Linked DNA regions of Homo sapiens. The protein of the gene in region 1 purifies or fractionates together with the protein of each later gene. This does not show direct contact. Each region holds a gene or a part of one and is shown in the gene's direction. Other genes may lie near its edges.

The links. Proteins that work in one complex are often made in the same cells at the same time.
Region 2: the proteins of CCDC6 (region 1) and PPP2R1A purify together in Homo sapiens (affinity purification with mass spectrometry; 5 studies listed by BioGRID and IntAct, with this or other methods). This does not show direct contact.

The regions. Positions count from the first base shown.
Region 1 is NC_000010.11:59,896,539-59,900,194, reverse strand, and holds part of CCDC6 (coiled-coil domain-containing protein 6), read left to right. Parts: intron 1-3,656.
Region 2 is NC_000019.10:52,210,544-52,214,199, forward strand, and holds part of PPP2R1A (serine/threonine-protein phosphatase 2A 65 kDa regulatory subunit A alpha isoform), read left to right. Parts: intron 1-716; coding exon 717-949; intron 950-2,142; coding exon 2,143-2,290; intron 2,291-2,411; coding exon 2,412-2,567; intron 2,568-3,656. UniProt on the Homo sapiens protein: The PR65 subunit of protein phosphatase 2A serves as a scaffolding molecule to coordinate the assembly of the catalytic subunit and a variable regulatory B subunit.

The DNA.
Region 1 (3,656 bases):
ACTGACACTCGACTATCGAGATCTTTCCCGGTTCATGTGTAAATTTCTTTGGGGGCAGAATTTGCCTTGTTCATCACATTCCTCAGTGCTTGGCATGTGAGAAACACCCAGAAATTTGTTGAGCTGGCTCCAGAGGCACGGGTATGTATGTACTTGTTTCTTTCTGTGATGAAGGTGCCAACACTCTCTCTGGGACCTTGTCTTCATAGAGCCACTCCCCTGCCACAACAGCAAACACTTTCTTTACCATAGTTGATGAAACAGACCAGATATGTGAATGGATGCATTGTATACTTTGGGGGACCATTGCAATCAGTGTGCCCTTGCCTTCTAGCTTTGGGTGATGTGGGCTACCTTGCAGCATACACCTGGGTGTTCCTGATAACATTTTATCTGAAAGGGGACAAAGTATTTTCAGGTTCTCCTTTCTAAGTGTTTCTGAGCAGGGCTTGGAGGAAAAAGTAGCCCCATTGGAAGTGTTCAGATTTGCTGCCTTGGTTTTGGTGATGGTGGCAGATCATTCCAGGTGTTTCCTATGACTCTTTAATGTTGAAATGCACCACTGGGAAACAACTCTGGCCCATTGCAGGGGGATGCAGTAATGCAAATAAATACTGGTGACCTGTAGCAGTGATGGGGGAAGCATCTGAAAACAGGGTAGGGGGATTGTTGAATTCTTACGTCTGCTGTGTCTTGCAGAGACACAAGTGTCACCACAGTGTATTTGTGTGTGTGTGTTTTCCTTAAATCATGCCTTGCCGAAATAATTGTGTTTACACTTCAAAATGCTAATCCAAACTACTGAACTGCAGTCAGGCTGAGTAAGGAATAATGGTAATCTTTTCTGTCCTCTCTGCATACTTTTTTTCCTTAGTGGGTAGGTGTTGCTTTTTGTTTTCAATCACATTGTGGTTGTTTTCAGGTATATTGAATTGTCAAAGTTGGCAGAGTAAATGTTCACAGGTTCAATATGTTCCTGCTTGGTGATGGTTGCAATTTTCTTGACAGAGGAACTAATCCTCTGGAAAATATTTTTAATTGTGAGGATCTTGGGGTGGTGTTAACTTGCAGATTCTTCCTACTTCTCCAAGGCTGTCAAATTTTCTTATCTTTTATGGCTGTGAAATGCACAGCTGTGAAGTCTATTCCAACCCTGATACCAGTAAATTGCAAAGGTCACTTTGTGTAGGTTCTCTCTTTAGGGATAAGTATTCTTTTAAAAAAGGCTTAACAATATGATTGATGGTCATTTAGAATTAACCCTCCCCTTTACTTATTGGTTCCTGGATCAGACATATGGAGTGCAATTTAATGATTATAGTTCATTACAATACTCATTTGTTTTTTGCTGGGAGATTTTTCTGGTCTCCCCTCTCTGCCCCCGCCTTTGTTTCTTCAGTAAGGTACAAAATGGCATGTAATAAATAAAATAAATATAGCCTCAAAGAGGCAGGATTCAGCTGTCAAGTGCTTATAATACTGTGTGCTGGATACAAATATCCAAAAGGAATGTTAGGGCTCTCCCGGTAGCATAGCGAGGATTGCACTTGACTTTCATTCAGCCTGGCCCTGGCCTGGTGCTGTAGGGAATACAGAGCAGAGGGAAACAGCCTTTCTCTCCAGCCTTGGGGATTGTGCAGTGCAGAAGGAACCAACACACACATGGATGCAGGAAGGGAAGCTTAGGCCGACTCCTGTAGGGGTTCCCAGGGAGGGGAATTTTACCTTCCAGCTTCCAAAATGAAGTTCATCTATCTCTGTGAATATCTTTAAGGGTAACAAGTTATCACATTCATTCACAGTTTAATTAGCTTGTAGTTTATTATGTAAGGCAGAGATGGGGAGAGCTGTTGCTCAATTTATGCTGAGGTGGCACTGGGAGGCTTTTGGTTTGTTTTTAATTTTTGTTTTTATGTGATGATGATTGAAAAGAAATGTCATTGATATTTTAATTTCATAATCTGCATCTGTCAGTACATGGAAATTATCTAGGTGGTTTTTTTCCCTCTATTCCTGTTTCTTTCATGGAATAATGGTGGATGGACGGAATTTCTCAAGTTTTTAATCCGAAACTATCTGAAAGCAAAGACTTCTTGCAGTAAAATTAGAGGTACTATTTTATAGGAAATTTTGAATTCTAGTTTTTTACAAAAGCAGTGCTGATTGATGGGCTAATCTTCCATGCATCTGTTCCAGATCAATCCAGCCTTGTGGTGCCAGGTGTGTGTCCAAAGTGATCTGGGTAATACCCACCAGGGCATCTCAGGGCACTGAGGATCAAATGAGGCCACTTGGTACTGCAGAGCAGAGTTGGGATGTTCAGCCAGGCATAAGTCATCATTCAAAAAGTTTTCCATAGGAGGAAGGACGAGAGTAAAAGAATGAAAGCAGCAGGGATTATGGGTGACCTAAAGAAAATTCTTAGAAATCTAGTTACCTGTGTTAAACACTTCACCTGTTGCTTCTATAAGTGAACAGTTTGAGTCTTTTGTGCTGTCTGCTTGTTGAGATTGAATTAGAGAGGCTAAAAGGGACAGATCTGAGAGAAAAATAATTATACCTGGAGTTTCATATAGATAACTTTTCAACTCATGAAATTACTTGTATGCAAGCTTGACTTTTTAAAAATTATCCTAATAGGCCAGGTGTGATGGCTCACGCCTGTAATCCCAGCACTTTGGGGAGGCCGAGGCAGGCGGATCACCTGAGGTCGGGAGTTTGAGACCAGCCTGACTAACATGGAGAAACCCCTTCTCTACTAAAAATACAAAAAATTAGCTGGGCATGGTGGTGCATGCCTGTAATCCCAGCTACTCGGGAGGCTGAGGCAGGAGAATCGCTTGAACCCGGGAGGTGGAGGTTGCGGTGAGCCGAGATTGCACCATTTTACTCCAGCCTGGGCAACAGGAGTGAAACTCCATCTCAAAAAAAAAAAAAATTATCCTAATATACCAACTCAAATGATAACTTTTATTCTACTGAGAGATGTTTTTTGTGGGGTGGAGTTCTTCACTAGACCAGAGTTTATCTAAACAAAGACATCCGTTGAGTCAAAACATCGTGTCTTCACTTCATTTAGTAGCCCTACTAATCTTTGAGGAAAAAATTGACTAGGTGATTTTATTGTTTTTATTAACCAAAGAGTACTGTTTTAAGTGTATTCTCCATAAAGTAGAGTTAGACTTCTTCAGGTTCAAATCACTACCTGGTAAGGGTTTATGTCCCTTGGAAAGTATATTAACTGTTTTATGCCATTTTGAGCCTTGCATGCATGGGGTTTATATTGTGAAATACCTTAGGTACCCAGAGAAGAGTACCAGTGACTTTTTTTGCATTTTTTTTTGTGATAAAAACATACACAACATATAATTCACCATTTTAACCATTTGTAAGTGTACAATTCAGTGGCTTTAAGTACATTCACAGTGTTTTGCAACCATCACCATTATCCATATCCAGAACTTTTCATCATCCCAAAAGGAAACTCTGTACCCATTAAACAATAACACCCATTTTTTTTTCCTCCCTGGTAAACCTCTATTCCTAGTGACTTAATTTTTTTTGTTTGTTTGTTTTTGTTCTTGTTTTTGTTTGTTTTTTTTTTTAAAGAAAGACTTACTCTGGTCTACAAAAGCTGCTAGCTGCTTTTTACTGTC
Region 2 (3,656 bases), on another chromosome or scaffold:
GTGCAGTGGTGCGATCTCGGCTTACTGCAGCCTCTGCCTCCCGGGTTCAAGGATTCTTCTGCCTCAGCCTCCCGAGTAGCTGGGATTACAGGTGCGCACCACCACACCCAGCTAATTTTTTTGTATTTTTAGTAGAAACGGGGTTTCACCATATTGGCCAGGCTGGTCTTGAACTCCTGACCTCGTGATCCACCCGCTTCAGCCTCCCATAGTGCTGGGATTACAGGCGTGAGCCACTGCGCCCGGCCCGTTTTCTCTTCTTTAAAATCAGGACTTGCTTTATAGAATTCAGTGAGGAAGAACAAGCACCCCTGGTACAACACGGAGGTCCTGCCTAGTACACACAGTGAGTAGATGTTCTACACAGTGTCAGTGATGATCATTGCACTTTGAGAGGCTAAGAACTTTCTCCTCAGAAAGCAACGTGTGTAATTTTAAGGTTTATGGACCCCAGTGAAACTCCTTCAAGGACCCCTAAATAAGAACCTTTGTGGAAGGCACGCTGACAGAGACCTTCTGCTGGCTGGCATAATATTACGTTTTTCCTTTGAGTCATTCATTGCAACCATTTTTAAAGGCTATTTTAATGAAGGTCGGGATGGGTAATAGGGAAGTTTTCTCTGAGGAGATGAGCCCATGATGGGGTGCAGGATGGGGCTCCAGGGCTGCGGATGGTGGAGAGGGAGCTGTCCAGTGACTTTGTGTTCTCACCACAGCCACCGCTGGAGTCGCTGGCCACAGTGGAGGAGACAGTGGTGCGGGACAAGGCAGTGGAGTCCTTACGGGCCATCTCACACGAGCACTCGCCCTCTGACCTGGAGGCGCACTTTGTGCCGCTAGTGAAGCGGCTGGCGGGCGGCGACTGGTTCACCTCCCGCACCTCGGCCTGCGGCCTCTTCTCCGTCTGCTACCCCCGAGTGTCCAGTGCTGTGAAGGCGGAACTTCGACAGTGAGTCTCTGCCTCCTTGGAAGCTCCAAGCTCCCATCTCAGCTCCAACCTTCTCTAAAGCCTCAGACTCCTTTTGGTCTAGCTGGGGCCCAAATGCCCCTGAACTCTCTCCACTCCCACTCCTGCTTACCACCTGATAGGCCACATCCTCGAGAGTTGGTCTCTGGACACGGCCACGTGTCAGTTTACCCACCTCTGCCCCCTTGCTCACTTAGGAATTGAGATGATGACAGGTCCTCCTTCCCACTGGTTAATGTGAGGATTTAAAAGAATTATCACACATAAAGTGCTTAGAGCAAAATCTGGAACATAAAAACTTTCAGCAACTTACATCTGATGGTATCTCCAGCCTGTCCCAGGTCCAGTGCCTTTGGCAGATAAACCACCTCAGTTTTCAGCCTCCTGCTCGTCTACTTTGCAAACGATTGACCGTCAAGCCCGGGTTTGAGCCTGACTCACTCCAGAACTCTGGTTTATGGCTGTACACTTGCTTAGATACTTACACTGGCCCCCACCGCCTTTGATCGAAGCAATTGCTGCTGAAAAATAAAGCCTTTCTGTGGCTCTAGACCTGCCTCTTAGTTAAGCAGTTTTTTGTTTGTTTGTTTTTTGAGATAGGATCTCGCTCTGTCATCCAGGCTGAAGTGCACTGGTGCAGTCATAGCCCACTGCAGCCTCAACCTCCTGGGCTCAAGCATTCCTCCTGCCTTAGCCTCTCAAATAGCTGGGACCACAGGTGTGCAACACCACGCTGGGCTCATTTTTTATTTTTGGCAGAGATGGGGTCTCACTATGTTGCTCAGGCTGGTCTTGAACTCCTGGGCTCAAGCAATCCTCCTGCCTTGGTCTTCCAAAGTGTTCAGATTACAGGTATGAGCCACTGTGCCTGGCTCGTTGGTTAAGCAATTTTTATGGGAATGATGTAATCGTCAGCACTTAGCATTGACTAGATTTATTATGCGCAATCTGCGAAGTGTCTCACACACACTATTTTCATTTAAACCTCATGCGGACCTGTGGGGTAGGTACTGTTACTATCAGCTCCGTTTCATAGGGCTGGGAAGACAGAGAGGGGGTCATCACTTGCCCAAGGTCATTCAGCTAAAACCTGGACCCACACAACTGCAGAGTCTGTGCTTGCTCCTCTCTGCCATACTGCCTGCTGCCTCAGGATCCCCGTCCCCGACTCCCAGGTACTTCCGGAACCTGTGCTCAGATGACACCCCCATGGTGCGGCGGGCCGCAGCCTCCAAGCTGGGGGAGTTTGCCAAGGTGCTGGAGCTGGACAACGTCAAGAGTGAGATCATCCCCATGTTCTCCAACCTGGCCTCTGACGAGCAGGTGAGTTTTGCTTCCTGGCCCTCTGCTCTCCCGTCCTTCTGGTGGTTCCTGCCCATGAAAGAGAATCCCAGAGCTCAGCAAGGCCTCTGCTGCCCTCCCACTGTTCCTCTCCTCTCCCTAGGACTCGGTGCGGCTGCTGGCGGTGGAGGCGTGCGTGAACATCGCCCAGCTTCTGCCCCAGGAGGATCTGGAGGCCCTGGTGATGCCCACTCTGCGCCAGGCCGCTGAAGACAAGTCCTGGCGCGTCCGCTACATGGTGGCTGACAAGTTCACAGAGGTAGATGAGCGACCGTTGACATTGTCCCACTGGTGGGGACACTGACACTCTCAGAAGGGAAGCATATAGGAGCTGAGGTTTCCATTAGGCCGATGGAACCATTGGGCGTTTGAGCAATAAGATCTCTATGATCATCTAACTGCGTCTCGCTTCGTGTGCCAATCCTGGTTGATTGACATGGCATCTTAAAGTGCTGCCTTGAGAAAGATTCTGAGGCAAAGTTAAGGCTACGTGGAGGAAAGTGCCACAGGAGCAGAGAAGGGTAGCACATGTGGGGTGTTCCTGACATAATCAAGCTGTCCTTTCACAAAGGGGAAGACAGCCCAAAAAGGTGGGGTTTTTTGGTGTTTTTTTTTTTTTTTTTTTTTTTTTTTTTTAAGATGGAGTCTGTCGCCCAGGCTAGAGTCTTGTTACCCAGCTGGAGTGTGGTGGCGCAATCTTGGCTCACTGCAGCCTGTCCCTCCCGGGTGCAGGCATTTCTCCTGCCTCAGCCTCCTGAGGGACTGGGATTACAGATGCCCACCACGACACCCGGCTAGTTTTTGTATTTTTATTAGAGACGGGGTTTCACCATGTTGTTAGCCAGGCTAGTCTCGAACTCCTGACCTCAAGCGATCCGCCTGCCTTCATCTCCCAAAGTGCTGGGATTACAGGTGTTAGCCACCGCGCCCAGCCCCGGAAAGTTTAATTAACTGATCAGAGTGACACTACCAGCCAGGCAGAAAGGGGACAAGACTCCAGGTCTGTGACTCTCAGGACAGTGCTCCTTCCACAGGGATCCAGATTGCCTCATCCCACAAACATGTTTGCTGAGCACCAGCTATTTGCTGGGCCAGTGAATTCGGATCATTCCTGGCCTTCATGGAGCTAGGCAGTCTGAAGGGGAAGACTGACTTAGGGGAAATTTGATTATAAAGTGTCACAGGTGTGGGACAGACAGACAGATGTGGGGCCTTGGAAGCATTGAGGAGGGGAGGTGGTGTTACAGCTGGTTCTAGAAGATGAGTGGGTAAGAGCTAAGATAGGAACTTTGTTCCAGCCAGAGGACAAAGAACCCTGGGAGGTGAGAGCAAGTGCAAGCAGGAACAT